Linked DNA regions of Homo sapiens: region 1 is linked to region 2. A link means that fine-mapping ties the variant in region 2 to the expression of a gene that starts in the linked region. Tissue or cell type: breast. Region 2 holds a variant in brackets; the other region holds the start of a gene. All regions are shown on one strand. Distances are from middle to middle.

Region 1 (8,191 bases), 310 kb after region 2:
AGAAGCTTCTATGCAACATAAAGAAATTCATATTTTTATTGCCTCATATTCTCTCAGCATGAAGAAGAATTTACATTTCTTAATTGGATTTCTTTCTCTCAGCACAAGAAATTGCAACAATCTCACTAGACTCCATTGCTTAACAGCCCCAAGAAGCAGTTGTATAACTTATTTATAAGGCAGGGTGTAGGGCAAAGTTTTTCAGTAAAGTTCAAGGACTACTTACATCAAGATTCCTTAAAATGCATTGTAAAAATCCAGAGTCTTAGCCTATGCTCCAGAGCTACTGAAGTAGACTCTCTAAATTTGAGACTCTGAAATCTGTGTTTAGAAAAGCTCTATATGATCTTTATTTAGTCATAAATTTGATAATTACCAATTTAACAGAAATGACAGATTTTGGAACACATCTGGGAAAGTCTCTATTTAACTGTTTCCCCTACCTCCACGCCCCACTGGGGCTGATCGGTATGAAATGGTAACGTACACCTGTGCTATTTAAGTTGTAAGGGTACTACTATTTGAAAGGACACAGAATTTATGTAGTTAAAAGAATCCTCAACTTTTTAATCCATGAAGGAAACTCGGAGAGTCTTCTAAGCTTATTTTTCTATGTTACAGACAGAGTATTTTCACTACAACTTAAAATTCTGGAGGCAAACTCTTATGCCTTAAAATATACTCTAAAATGAAACCTGCCCCATTTCAAAGTGCCTGTGAAGATGGGCATTGTTGTTCAGGGTCTATAATCATGTATCTGTGTCATGGTTCTGGGATGTAGTAATAGAGCCAGAGCTTAGTTGTTGATTTGGAAGTTCAGGTTAGCACTTTTGTTTATGAAAGCACAACTATGGGAGATTGCGAAAAGCATGGTGGGCCAATCTTACTGTAATTCTTGCTCTATAAGCTGTTTAGGTTCTTGTATTTGTACGAAATAATTGTATAGTTATTAAAAGTATTAAATTGCTAAGCTGGAAACTCCTAGCTCCTCCCCGTTGATAACTACCTCATCTACTACAGAGAACTGAGCTGATTGAGAAGCAAAAAAAAAAAAAGAAAAGAAAAAAAAAAAAGAAAAGAAAATGAGAAAATGTGTGTGTCTCTCAGTTAATTCTAATCCTAAGTGTAGAGTATATAGTCTCCATTTGCCGTATGAAAAAACAGAGAGGTTTTAGAAAGGAAATACTTTTTCCATAGTTATATGTGACCAAGATAAAATTTGAGCTAAATTCTAAACTGACTAGCTCTAAAGGCTGTGCTTTCTCCAAAGGAACAGAAGAAAAACAAATGCCAGAAAAGAAGGGAAAGACGCAGAGGAGCAGATATAAGAGAGGGAACAAACAACCAAATAAGTTTCCATGGTAGGCTTTATTGAAATTAGGAAATTTCTAAGAGAAATTATTGTGGTGACCCCCAAAGCACAGAATAGGGGCTACAGTACATGAGGCAATGTAGTTTGTCTGTAAAATGTGTTGTGATCATGTCTGTAAGAATCTGCTATTTCCTAAGAAAGAGTACAGCTCTGGTATTTCATTCTGGCATTAACCCCACAGAGCTACAGTGACTTATCAGCATGCCTTTATCCATTAGTATAACAGAGAGAACAAAAATATCCGCTAGCCATTCATTTCTGCAAACAGAGCTCAAGTGTTTTGCAACAAAGTTATTTTCCTATGCTTATGCCAACTAGAGACGTTTTGACTCCTATCACAACACTGTCACTAAATCTTTTCAGTTAACCATTTCTTCTTTCTCTTGGATAAAAATAAGTTACAGTGCCTAAAAAGTAGAATTATCCTTTGAAATGTAAGTCTCCAAATAGTTTGAATCTTTATACATAGAAATTTTCATTATGAAATGTAAAGGATTCTGAAATTAGCCATCAGAGCCTATGATTGTTTTCCCCATTTTAAAGTTCAGAAATTCATGTGACTGTTCCATATTTTATTAAAATTTTAGCTGCTTAAATCTTTTTTCTTTAGGTTTTGAGAGGCAGGTGCAATGGAGCGGGCGTGCAGGAGGTTGTATAATAATTGCAACCAAAAGAAAAAAGATGCGTGAGTTAGACTCATTGGTAGCTGAAAAACATTAACAGCCAGAAAGTTTCCTTCTCAAGCTTTAAATAAATATTTTATGAAATGTCAATAAAATTTTTCTAAAGATTAGATCTTGCCTCCTAAGAACCTTCTTGGTGTCTATGAGTGGAGTATTTATATTGACAACTCTCAAACTATAATGAAATGTATGTCACCAGTAGCAGCCAACTTAGAATTGGGCACTCCAAAAATAACCTGATTTAGTGAAATAACAGTTATGGTCAGGCCCATGGGCAGGGTGAGTATGAAAGCCACTGCTTTGGGACAAAATGATTATATAATGGGCTGTTTCGGAGCTACCTTAAAAGGAAACATATCCTTCTATTGCAATGGGATATTTCTGAGTTCTCTGCACCCCTAAAGCTCTTCTTGTTGCATTATTAGCTATGTGAGGAAATCATAAAGGGGATAAATAAGGGAGTTGGTGGGGGACAGGAATCTATTACCTCATACTCCAAAAACACTAATGGCTCACTTACATTGGTTATATATGAAATTTGAACAACATAACATCTTTTAAAAAGTAGTTCCCCTAGGTGGAGGGAGATGGGTGAACAAATAGGATCAATGTGGAAAACTTTTTGTCTACAGCACTATTGAATTAACACTTTCCCAACATTCTAGACACCTCACATCAAATAGTGGAGTTTCTATCCATTTGACTCATACATTACTAAGTAGCAATAGCTTTCTTAAAATGTCCATTTGTTCGAGTCAGTCTTTTCCTTAGAAATCTAAAAGAATTTTCATATAACTCTCTTAAAATTAGTATTATTTTCTCTCTATCATATACACACACACTCAATATTTTACTATACCCAGCACTTTGGGAGGCCGAGGCGGGCGGATCACGAGGTCAGGAGATCCAGACCATCCTGGCTAACACGGTGAGACCCCGTCTCTACTAACAACAATACAAAAAATTAGCCAGGTGTGGTGGCGGGCGCCTGTAGTCCCAGCTACTCGGGAAGCTGAGGCAGGAGAATGGCGTGAACCTGGGAGGCTGAGCTTGTAGTGAGCCGAGATAGGGCCACTGCACTCCAGCATGGGCGACAGAGCAAGACTCTGTCATAAATAAATAAATAAATAAATAAATAAATAAATAAATAAATAAATTTTACTATAAAAGAAGACATTCCTGTGTGTGTATGCTAACATCAACTGATACTATTATTTGCACTTTGTCCACTTGAAATACTTTCGTATTATCACCAAACTCACTTTCAAATCCCTTTGTAAAGTACTGAAGAGAAAATTTAGAAAAGGGTATGAGAAAGCAATTCACATAAGAAAATAAACAGGTAATATAACGGAAGTAGTATCTATATTTGTGAGTCACAAAAATGAACTAGAAATCACAGTGAGATATCATTATTCACTTTACACAAATGAGAAGATAGAAATAAAAGCATCGGCTGGGCGCGGTGGCTCACGCCTGTAATCCCAGCACTTTGGGAGGCCGAGGCGGGTGGATCACAAGGTCAGGAGATCAAGATCATCCTGGCTAACACAGTGAAGCCCCGTCTCTACTAAAAATACAAAAATTAGCCGGGCGTGGTGGCGGGTGCCTGTAGTCCCAGCTACTCGGGAGGCTGAGGCAGGAGAATGGCGCTAACCCGGGAGGCGGAGCTTGCAGTGAGCCAAGATGGCACCACTGCACTCCAGCCTGGGCTACAGAGTGAGACTCCGTCTCAAAAAAAAAAAAAAAAAAAGAAAAGAAAAGAAAAGAAGTAAAAGCATCAATTTCACCACAAAAAATTAATTTGGAGGATAAAGTATAATATGAGAACCCACTGGCATGATAATAATCCAGGAATTATACAGACTTCCCCCTGTTAAAAGCAATGCTAAGCTAGATCATGTGTACCAATTTACAAAGGTAAAATCTTGCTCTCTGAGGGCAGCTGTCTTCTAAGACAAAAAGGGTGGAACTATTCGGAGCATGTCTAATTGATTTTTTCCAAATTTATTAATCAGAGTGAATCACTCCATCTTCTCTGGTAGATAGTGAATAGAAGAGCAGAGAGAGGCAAGGAGTGTAGCACACGGAAGACCACATTCACCTGGAAAGAAATATCAGGACTGAGGACAAGAATTCCTCTCCACACCTTCTCCCCACCCCATCACCCTGCCAAATTCCAGTACAAAATAGTTTCACTAGCTGGTCTATCATAGCTTTGGAAAATCCAATAGTAGAGATTCAGTTATTTGAATAGAGTTTCTTTTTTAATAACAAATGACCCCAGGAGGCAAAATACCGATAAATCCTATAACCTTTAGTATGTTATCAGAAACGAAAGTAGCCTTGAGAAAAGGAGAGATCAGACTGGAAAAAGGAAAACGGACTCAGAAACTTAGTTATCTCAGCTATGAAAATTAGGTAGTTGAACTCCTTGAAATACAGGGCTCCATCCAATACTATGTACCAATTGTGGGATAACTAGAAGTAAATACAGAGTTAAAACTGTAGTCTCAGTTGTTGTCGGTAATAACAGCAGAGATTGCAACCTAAAGGGAATGTGCAGCACGATCAGATGCACACAATCTATTTTCCACTTCTCTAGTGTGTCTCAGCTTGTTAAGGTTAAATACAGAATTTTTTTTCTATTTTGCTTTATCTGTCAGTATAAGATAATTAAAAAGAAGTGAACTTCCTTCATCCATTTATCTTGGATGGCATGCACACTTTATTCTGTTATCACCAAAAACATAAAACCTAGAGAAAATGCAAATTAAAATTTTTATAAATGTACATACCACATAGTTTTATAGACATCTATGTTCCACTCTTAAGCCAGGGTCAAAGTAGAATTCTCTTTGGTCTCTCTTCCCTTAGAGGAACAGAAAATAAAAGACCGAGAAAACAGACTGTGATGGAGGATTCATTATAAGCCAAAACCTGAATCACCATAATTACACACAGTTCATAAGTGCAAATCGTACCCATCTCTTGGCAGATTAAAAAGCCAAGTGATGAGTAATATTGCTGAGCTAAACATGCCTGTTTCATAAGCCACTCAAATCAACACTCCTGTTATCCCTTGACACACAGGCAAAAATTCTATCTGTAAGCCTAATAAAATCTCATTTGTTTTACCTGAAGGTCCTATGAACCACCTGGTGCCTCTCTTTGCACTTGTTTTTCTCTATTAACTTATGCTTTGTAGAAATTAAGGCTTTAATCTGATAATTCTTTCCACTAGCTTTTAATTATTAGGTTAATGTGTGAATTTGAAGCAAGCAGTCCAATATGAAACTATTAAGAAAAAAGTTGAAAATGCTGAATGATATTAGAAATTCTAGACGGTAAAATTTAGACAATAATTAGTCTTCTGATTTTTCCTAATGACAGTTTGTAGGAAATACAGGTTGAGCATCTCTAATCCAAAAGTTCAAAACTGGAAATGCTCCAAAATCTAAACTTTTTGATTGCTGACATGATGCCACAAGTGGAAAATTCCACACTTGATTTCATATGACAAATCTCAGTCAAAACACAGACAGAACTTTGTTTCAGGTACAAAGTTACGTAAAATATTATATAAAATTATCTTCAGTTTTGTGTATACAGTGTATATTAAACATAAATGAATTTTGTGTTTAGACTTGTGTCCCATCCTTAAGATGTCTCATTATGCATATGCAAATAAATATTCCCAAATCTGAAAAAAAAAAAATCTGAAATCTGAAACACTTTTGGTTCCAAGCATTTTGCATATGCGATAGTCAATCTATACTGTACAATGCTAGGTTATATTCACAAAAGAGTTGTTCACAACAGTCTCAACTTTTGATTAGAAAGTTGTTATTGCGGTAGCTAAATCTATAAACTTTTTAGCACATCAATATGGTAACTGCTACACATAAATATAAAATTTATTTTTAGCTTTAAGTTTAATGACTTCTCTTTAAAAAAAAAGCTAATAGTCAAATACAATGTATGTTTTCAAATTTAAAATATTTTTGCTTAAGAGTAAGATTTAAGCTTAGTGACGAGAAAAAACCTGAGACGTTTCTTGAGATATAAATATTGTAGCCTTTAATTATTAAGTGTTTTCAGAAGCAAAAATTAGCAGCCAACTATTTGCTAATAAAGAATTAAGTAACTTGTACTTTAAATACCTTATTGGTAAACTTACATCCTTTTTCTTGAAGAAATCAACCATACTAAGAAAAAAACTCACAGAAAGTTTTGTAAGTCAAGTAAAGGTTTGGTCTTAACACAGGCTCAGTTATGATGCCTCCACTGAAATTTGTTCAAGTGTGGCAGAATATGACAAAAATATTCCCAGTTTCTGTCGATGTATGAGCAGAGAAAGAAAAATGTCTATTGTTTGTCAAGTCACTAAAATTTCATGCTCCCTATTTTGTTCTTTTTATTTTTTCATTCTATGTTGCTCTGTCTCATCTGAGATTAGTGCCCTTATAAAAAGAGATATGAGAGGGCTTGCTTCTTTTGGCTTTCCTCCATGTGGGAATATAAGGGAAAAGCAGCCATCTGCAAACCAGGAAGCCAGCCTTCACCAGACACTAGATCTACTGACACCTTCATCTTGGACTTCCCAGCCTCCAGAACTGTGTGGTCACATAAGCTACCCAATGTATGGTGTATCTGTTTTAGCTGCTCAATCTAACACACATGGAGGAAAGCGGACAGGACACAAGCCCTCTCATATCTCTTTTTATAAGGGCATGAATCTCATTCCTAGGGTTCCACCCTCATGTCCTAATTACCTCCCAAAGGCTCCACCTATAAATACCATCATTTTAATGATTAAACTTCAACATACTAACTTGATTTGGGGGTAAGGGTATGCAGATATTCAATCCATAGCATCCTGCGACCTCCTCTTCTCTAACCCTCCACCAACCCTTGACAATCATGAGGAAACTGACACAAACTATATAACTATATGCTTATATTTTTTCTATCCCCATCTATTGCTGGATCATTTTCTATTACATCTTTGCCTTATTACATTCCAGAATATGAGTTTATCCACAGAGAGCTCATTGCTTCCTGAGACTGTTCAATTATGATTTAGACAACACTAATTACATTTCTTTTTAAAAATATTTTTTTCTGGTGTTGAACCAAAATCTTCATCCCTTAATTTTCCTCCATGGGTTCTAGTTCTGCCACCTGTTTTCTACATAGCAACTCTTTCAAAATATTAAACTTCAGATTTCACATGCTTCTGAGTTATTTGACTTTTCTCCATAACAAGTATCAACAGTTGTTTATGCCATTTCTCATATAAAGCACTCCTTGTAACTGAGGAACACTGTGGCTTCTACCCAAGGAGGAGAAACTATGCATATTTGAGTGGTGAAGAAACTGAAACTGAGTGTGAGAAATCCAGTTGATATAATAATCCTGAAAAAACATTAATGTTAAAAGCATGCATTCAAAGAAGATATTCTTAGGCAATTTTCTTTGAAGTCCATGTAGATTTCCTGCTTTTTTGAAAGTATTTAAAATCAGAGAATGTAATGAAAACACCTGGTTTCAAATGCCAGCTCCACAACAGCATAGGTTTGTGATGTTAGGCCAGCTTCTCTACTTCTCTGAGTATCATTATCTAAAAGTAGGGGAAAAGAGTCATTAATTTGAAGTTAAATGAGATAATATTAATACATTTAAAGTGCTTTAGTCAGTGGCGAGCTCATAATAATTCACTACATATTAGTTATGTTTTTATATTCACTGGAAAACAATCAATAGTTTTCTGTAAAGTTGATGGATTGCAAAATGGGGAGGAGGGAATCTACAGATTTCATCCTTTTAACTGGGAAAGATATTTAATACTGAGAATGGTAATAAATAGGTTCCCAAATTTTAAAATTAGATTTTTTTGCTAATACCTGAAGATAATTACCATTTATTAGCATCTTTTGGAAAGCCTGGAAAAGGAGCAGTTTGACAAATGAATTTAAATGACTTATTTGGAATTCTAATTTCTGATTATTATAAAGATGGTTTTGAGGTAGTAGCTGCCAAAGATGGGACCACAAGTTAGTAGTGGTAAAACTAATACTATTTTCCTGAAACAAAATTGTAAAATACATTATCAGAGAATAAAGCAGTAAAAGCT
Region 2 (8,191 bases):
GCTGAGGTATATACCTTCCATAGAAAATCATCAAGATAAAGTGAGGTTTTGTGATTCAACTCTCATGTTTTGATTTCTTCAGTGATTTTGTTATCTCACTTTCTGGCTGCAGGTGGTTTTGCAGATAAACAGTTGGATTATTTCAGAAGCCTTAGAGTTCTTCCTATTACACATTCAAGTCAATGGTATCAAAGAGGTCCATTGTAAGAACTCATTCTTTCATAAATGGAAAAGTCTAATATAAGAATAACTAAATTAACTAAAAAATTCTGTTTCACAGTATTAAAAAGACAAAGAAGAAAATATATGTGAGTGGGTGTCTTAATCCATTTTCTGCTGTTGTAACAGCATAACAAAAGCTAGGTAATTTATAAAGAATAGGGTTTTATTTGGTCACAGTTCTAGAAGTAGGGAAGTCCAAGAGCATGGTGCTGACATCTTGTGAGGACCTTCTTGCTATGTTACCCTATAATAGAAAGGCATCACATGGTTAGTGAGTGTGCAAGGCAGGAAGAGCAAGAAGGCTGAACATGTCCTGTCATCAGGAGCCCACTCCCATGATAACTAATCATCTTTCAGGATAACAGATTAATCTATTCATGAGGACAGAGCCCTAATGACCTAATCACATCTTAAAGGCCCCACTCCACCAAACTGTTTCATTGAGCATAAAGTTCACAAAACATGAGCTTTGGGAGATATATTCAGGAAATAGCAGTGGAAAAATGTAAGTAGCAACTAAAGCTGCATAGAATCAAACACCAAACTGAAAAGCTTGAAACCGGTTTAAAGGGCATTTATAGTCATTGAAGGTTTTGAAGAAGCAAGGAAGATTACTGAGAGGGTAAAAAAGAGTGAGAGCTTGCTATTTTACATATTACCTACCCGACTCTACCCTCTGACAACAATGGACCTTTAGCACAACTGCAGATGGATTCTCCCTACCACATTATTGTACTCAACTAAACACATGCAGATTTGGAGACTAGCCAGAATCATTCCCCAAAATGAAAATACTTGTTTCTAATAAGTTTACCACAACTACTTTGTGTTTACTTATCCTACGTGACTCTTGTGACAGAGGACCTTGAGTTTAGAGAACAGGTAAAAGAAACGGCTTTGAGTTGGTAAGAAGACAAGTTATAGCTTGTGTATGGAAAGAAGCAATATGGATTATGAGTAGATAAAGATAAATTCTTGCCTGAAGGGTAATACAGTACAGGAATCTTATACAAATTCCCATAAGGTGGTTTCTCCTTTCTCTGAAAACAATAAAGAAATGCTCATATTTACAGTGAAGTGGATGTAAATATTTAGAACAGTGGCAAAAATTTGGAAAAACATCTAAACCAAAGTAATTAGAGGAGGATGTAATCAAAGAAAAGTACACAGTTTTTCTGGCTTGACTGAGAACCCATTGGAATGGACAATTACATCTATATGGTAATACTAATATCTAGGTTTAGGTTTTCCGTAGCAAGCTCTGGAATGGGGAGGCAGATAAATAAAGAAATATGAAAATTGATGTTATTGTGTATAATCTGGCTGAAATGATGGAACACTATTTTAGGATGAAGAGGAAGATAAAACAGAGGGAAGCTGAAGTGCAGAGGGGAAATAAGGCAATTAATTATTGGGAGAAAATGTGGGTTCAAAATAAGACACATTGACCAATGGAACAGAATTGAGAGCTGGGAAATAAAGCCACACACCTACAACCATCTGGTCTTCAGCAAAGTTGACAAAAACAAGCAATGGGGAAAGGGTTACCTATTCAATAATGTGCTGGGATAACTGTGTAGCATACGCACAAAATTGAAGCTCGACCCCTTTATTACACCATATACAAAAATCAACTCAAGATTGATTAAATGCCTAAATGTAAAACCTAAAACTGTAAAAACTCTGGAAGATAACCTAGAAAATACTATTCTGGACATAGGCCCTGGCAAAGACTTCATGATGAAGACACCAAAAGCCATTGCAACAAAAACAAAAGTTGACAGACGGGATCTAATTTAACTAAAGAGATTCTGCACAGCAAAAGAAACCATCAACAGAGTAAACAGGCAGCCTACAGAATGGGAGAAAATATTTGCAATTGATGCATCTGACAAAGGTCTAATATCTAGCATCTTTAAGAAACTTAAATATTCAAGCAAAAAACAAACAGTCTCATTAAAAAGTAAGTAAAAGACGGCCGGGAGCGGTGGCTCACACCTATAATCCCAGCACTTTGGGAGGCCGAGGCGGGTGGATCACAAAGTGAAGAAATCGAGACCATCCTGGCTAACACGGTGAAACCCCGTCTCTACTAAAAAAAAAAAAAAAAAAAAAAAATACAAAAAATTAGCCGGGTGTAGGTGGCGGGCGCTTGTAGTCCCAGCTACTTGGGAGGCTGAGGCAGGAGAATGGCGTGAACCCAGGAGGCAGAGCTTGCAGTGAGTCAAGATCACGCCACTTCACTCCAGCCTGGGCGACAGAGCAAGACTCGTCTCAAAAAAAAAAAAAAAAAAAAAAAAAAAAAAAAAGTAAGTAAAGGACATGAACAGATAGTTTTCCAAAGAAGACATACACATGACCAACAAGCACATGAAAAAGCGCTTGACATCACTAATCGTTAGAGAAATGAAAATTAAAACCACAACAAGATACCATCTCAGACCAGTCAGAATGGGTATTATTAAACAGTCAAAAAATAATAGATGCTGGCAAGGTTATAGAGAAAAAGGAGCACTTATACACTGCTGATGGGAATGTAAATTAGTTCAGCCATTGTGGAAAGTAGTTTGGAGATTTCTCAAAAAACTTAAAATGGGACTACCATTCAATCCAGGAATCCCATTATTGGGTATATACCCAGAGGAATATAAATCATTCTACCATAAAGACATATGCATGCGTATATTCATGGCAGCACTATTCATAATAAGCAAAGACATAGAAACAATCTAAATGCCCATCAGTGGTGGTATGGATGACGAAAATGTGATATATATATATATGTGTGTGTGTGTGTGCATATGTGTGTGTGTGTATATATATATAAATACTATGCAGCCATAACAAAGAATGAGATCATGTCCTTTGCAGCAACATGGATGGAGCTGGAGGCCATTATCTGATGCAAACTAAAGCAGGAATAGAAAACCAAATACTGCACGTTCCTACCTATAAGTGGGAGCTAAACATTGAGTACACATGGACGCAAAGAAGGGACCTGCAGACACCAGGGCCTACTTGAGGGTGAAGCATGGGAGAAGGAAGGGGGAGAGATAGAAAAACTACCTATCGAATACAATGCTTATTACCTGGGTGATGAAAGTCTGTACACCAAACTCCCACAGCAAGCAATTTACCTATAGAAAAAGTCTGCACATATACCAATGAACCTGAAATGAAAGTTAAAAGATAAATATTTTCTTCCACAAAACCAATGAGTAAAAATATTTTTAAAGTTAGAATCCACCTATTTGAGAACTCTAGAAATTAACCAAAGTCTTGTAGTAACTCAGGGAGTATTCATTCAAGAAAAGTGACTGAATCTTAGGAAGAACTTATGGCTTTTTTTTTTTTGCTTTTTAGCTTTATTCTCATCACTTGTTCTCCAGCTGTGGGGTAGCCTTGAAAAATAATAGCCCACATTTGCAGTAAAAAGCAACAATAGTGCAGGCACTAGAGACAACAGAGACGGTTAGAGCTCATTCCCAAATAATTACCGTTGTCTGACTTACCTGGTAATTTCATGGAAGACCCCACTTGCAAAGCTATCTATACTGACATGACTTAGAGCTCACCCAGCATGAACAGCCTTTTCCTGGAGGTAGGGGAGGGGAGGAGTTGGTAAAAACAAACAAAGAAACACAACAGGGAATTATTGTTTAACTTTATGGTCCTAAGGCAGTGGATAATATTTCTATCAAACAATAGTATAAACAAAAAGCTTAAAAGTAAAAGCTGGAAATTAGATGTTCCTAAGGCTTTGAAAAACTCAGCAGTATTCCCAGGAATCTTGAAGGCCACACACAGGCAGACAGTGTTCTCTCCTTCTTAGGAAAGACATAAGAAGGTCCTAAATTCTCATCACTGAATAATCTTGTGGCTTTATGCAAACAGGAAGTAAAGGCAAAGGCAGATTTGA[G/C]AAAAACCTGACTGAGTGTTGAAGATATGCCCCAATATGCACACAGAGCTTCTCAGCAAAGACTAACTGCATTTTTTCCAAAAATCAATTGTTCATATACAGTAAAGGTCTACTTCTGGGCTCTATCATATTCCATTGATCTATATGTCTATCTTTACATGAATAGCACACTGTTCTGATTACTATATGCTATCGACTGACTGTCTTTCCAAAATTCATATGTTAAACGCTGATCTCCACCATGGTGATATTTGGAGGCAGGGCCTTTGGGAGGTGATTAGTTCATGAATTGTAGTACCTTTTATGAATGAGATTAGTGCATTTATAAGAAAAGACCAGAGAGTTAGTCCACACTCTTTCTGCCATGTGAGGATATAATGAGACGTTAGCAGTCTGCAAAATAGAAGAGGGCCCTCACCAGAACCTGACCATCCTGATACCCTGATCTCAGACCTCCAATCTCCAGAACTGTGAGAAATAAATTTTTGCTATTTTTAAGTCATCCAGCCCACTGTACTTCTTTATAGCAATCTGAACTAAGACACTATAGATTTATAAAATTTTCATCTTTTCAAATATATTTTTGCTGTAGTTATTTGTATACTTTTTATTTTCATATAAATTTAGAATCATCTTGTCATATTTTATAAAATAATTATTTTTAAAAAATAAGGATTTCACTGACTATAGAGTTCAGCCTGTGGAGAACTGTTATCTTAAGCATGTTGGATCTTCTGACCAATGAACAAAAAAAAATTTCAATTTATTTAAGCTTTTAATTTTTTTCTCAGCAATGTTTTGCAGTTTTCAGTGTCCCAGTACTTTACATATTATATCAGATTTATTCCACAGTATTGTTTTTTTTTTTGAGATGGAGTCTTACTCTGTCACCCAAGCTGGAGTGAAGTGGTGCGATCTCAGCTCACTGCAATCTCCGCCTCCCTGGTTCAAGTGATTCTTCTGCCTCAGTCTCCCAAGTAGCTGGGATTACAGGCATGTGCTACCACTCCTGCCTAATTTTTGTATTTTTAGTAGAGACAGGGTTTCGCTATGTTGGTCAGGCTGGTCTCGATCTCCTGACCTCAGGTAATCTGCCCATTTCAGGTCACAAAGTGCTGGGATTACAGGTGTGAGCCACCATGCCTGGCATATCCCACAGTATTTAAATACTTATGTCAATTTAAGTGGTATTTTTCTATTTCAGTCCTATGTTGTGCATTGTTAATACAAACAAATACAATTGATTTGTGCATAGTGATCTTGCATCCGGCAAGTCTTGCTAAATTCATCTATTCTAGAAGCTTTTTTGTATATCCAATGGATTTTCTACATATATGATCATGTCATCTCTGGATCAAACAGTTTTACCTTTTCTTTTCTACTTTGGATGCCTTTTAGTTCTTTATCTTCTTTCTCTGTTTGCACTGGCTAGAACATCCAGTACAATGTTTAACAGCAGTGATGAGGGTAAATATCCTTGTCTTTTTACTATCTTCGGGGGAACACTATCAGTGTTCCACTAATAAGTACAGTGTTAGCTTTTTAAACGATTGATTTTTTTTCAGGTTGAGGAAATACCCTTCTGTTTCTAATTAGCTGAGGTGGTTTTGTTCGTTTTCGTTTTTAATTAGAAATGAATGTTTGATTTTTGGCAAATGCTTTTCTGTGTCTTTCAAAAAGATAATATTACGTATTTCTAATTTTTAGTGCGTTAATATGGTGAATTAGAGTGACTGATTTTTGAATGTTGAACCAGCTTTACATTCTTGGTATATTCCTCACTTTTGTGACAAGGTATTATCTTTTTATATATATCTGGAGTTGTTTTGCTGGTGTTTTCATCAGAACATTGTTATGTCCATGAGGGATATTATTACGTAATCTTCTTTTCTTATAATGTCTTTGCTGGTTTCAGTAATGTGTAATGTTGACCTTAAAGAAAAAACTGGTAGGTATTCCCATATTGTCAACTTGCTGAAGGAATTTTTATAGAATTTGTATAATTATTTTTCCCTGAATATTTAGTAGAATTTACCAGTGAAGGCATCTGGGACTGAAGTTTTCATGGTAGGAAGGATTTTACCAAAAATATATATTTAAATATGTGGGACTATTCTTCTTATTTATTTTTTTGTTTTAGTGAACTTTGGTGGTTTGGGTCTTTTGAGAAATTTGTCTGTTTCATCCAGATTTTTGTATGTATTCTAGTTAAGTTGCTCATAATATTCCATTATTGTTCTTTTAATATCCGTAGAACAGTTTTCCTCAAACGTTATTTCAGTCACTACCCTATGAGTCTTTTTTGACTTTTTTCTTAATTGCCCCCAATAAATTTTAATTTCAGAGACATATTGTATGTCTATTTATGTATATGTAATCTATGCTTTATATATAAAGAATTTTTTGCCTCCTTCCCCAAAAGAACCTTTTTAAAATATATATTACTATTTAATTTAATTAATTTATTTTTAGAGATGGGGACTTGCTCTGTCCCCCAGGCTGGTGTGCAGTGAATTATAGCTTACTGTAGCCTCCAACTCCTGGGCTCAAATGATCCTCCTGCCTTGGCCTCCTGGGTAGCTGGGACTACAGGTAGGTGCATGCCACCACATTCAGATAAGCTTTTTTATTTTTTTTATAGATGGAAACTCAGTTTGTTGCCTGGTTGGTTTCAAACTCCTGGCTTTAAGCTGTCCTTCTAGCGCAGTCTCCCAGAGTGCTGGGATTACATGTGTGCGCCACCATGGCCAGCCTCAAAATTTTTTATTTCTGCTTTATTGTTTTTTCTCTTCTTACTTGGAGTTTTATTTGTTCTTTTTCTGGTTTCTGAAGGTGGAAGATAAGATCACTAACTTGCTGTTATTCCTCTTTTCTTACACAGGCATTTTGCACTATGAATTTCCCTTTAAGAACTGGCATACCACAAATTCTGATATGTTGGCTTTTCTTTTACATTTAATTCAAAATACTTTGAATGTCTCTTTTGATTTCTTCTTTGACTCATTTGTTTTAGAAATCTCTCATTTAATTTCCAAATACTTGGGTATTGCCCACATGCCTTTTTATTATTGACTTCTAATTTTTCTAATTTAATCCCATTGTAGTCAGAAACATACTTTGAATGACTGAGACTTTTTTTATGACACGGAGCTTTGTGACAAGTGATTTTACATTGAGTATCTCACCTAATTATCAAGAAAATCCTATAAGGTGGGCACTATTATTGTCACCATGCTATACATGAGGAAATAAAAGCTGAAAGGTGTTAAGCACATATCTAAAATCACGGTTATGAAGTAGTGGAGTCTGAGTGCTTAACCATTATTCAGTATATGTGTGTGTATATGTATACATATATACTGAATATGTATATTGAATATATATACTGTATATGTGTATATTGTGTATATGTATATGGAATATGTATATTGTATATTGAATATGCATATTGTATATATGTATATATAGGATATATTATATATAATGTATATACAATAGGTATGTATAGTATATTGAATATATATATTGTATATTGAATATATATACTGAATATATATATTCAGTATATGTGTATATATACAGAATATGTATACTGAATATATATACTGAATAATGATTAAGCACTCAGACTCCACTACTAGTTTTGAAAAGACAAAATTAATTTTTAAGTATATGTGTGCGTATATATATTTTATATATATGTGTGTGTATATTTATATATATATATATATGATTCTTTTATTTATTTATTTATTTATTTATTGAGACAAGGTCTCACTCTTACCAAGACTAGAGTGCAGTAGCTCAATCATGGCTCACTGCAGTCTTGACCTTCCAGACTCAAGCAATCCAGCCTCCCTAGTGGCTGGGACTACAGATGCATACTATCACACCCAGCTAATTTTTAAATATTTGTAGAGGTAGGTGTCACTATGTTACTCAGGCTGGTCTCGAACTCCCGAGGTCAAGTCATCCTCCTGCCTCGACTTCCCAGAGTTCTGAGATTCCACATGTGAGCCTCTTACCCAGCTATCAGGTCCTTTTACCTGC

The links. PIP is the estimated chance that this variant, and not a neighbour inherited with it, causes the effect.
Region 1: it holds the start of LINC01239, and the variant in region 2 is fine-mapped to the expression of LINC01239 in breast (GTEx, PIP 0.95).

The regions. Positions count from the first base shown.
Region 1 is chr9:22,642,959-22,651,149 of GRCh38, reverse strand. It overlaps LINC01239 (long intergenic non-protein coding RNA 1239), which reads right to left and starts at 4,950. Exons shown (of 6, transcript NR_038977.1): 1 at 4,854-4,950.
Region 2 is chr9:22,952,574-22,960,764 of GRCh38, reverse strand. LOC124902132 (a long non-coding RNA gene) reads right to left here and starts at 3,812. Exons shown (of 3, transcript XR_007061438.1): 1 at 3,735-3,812; 2 at 3,312-3,392. The variant G/C (reference allele first, on the strand shown) is at 4,142.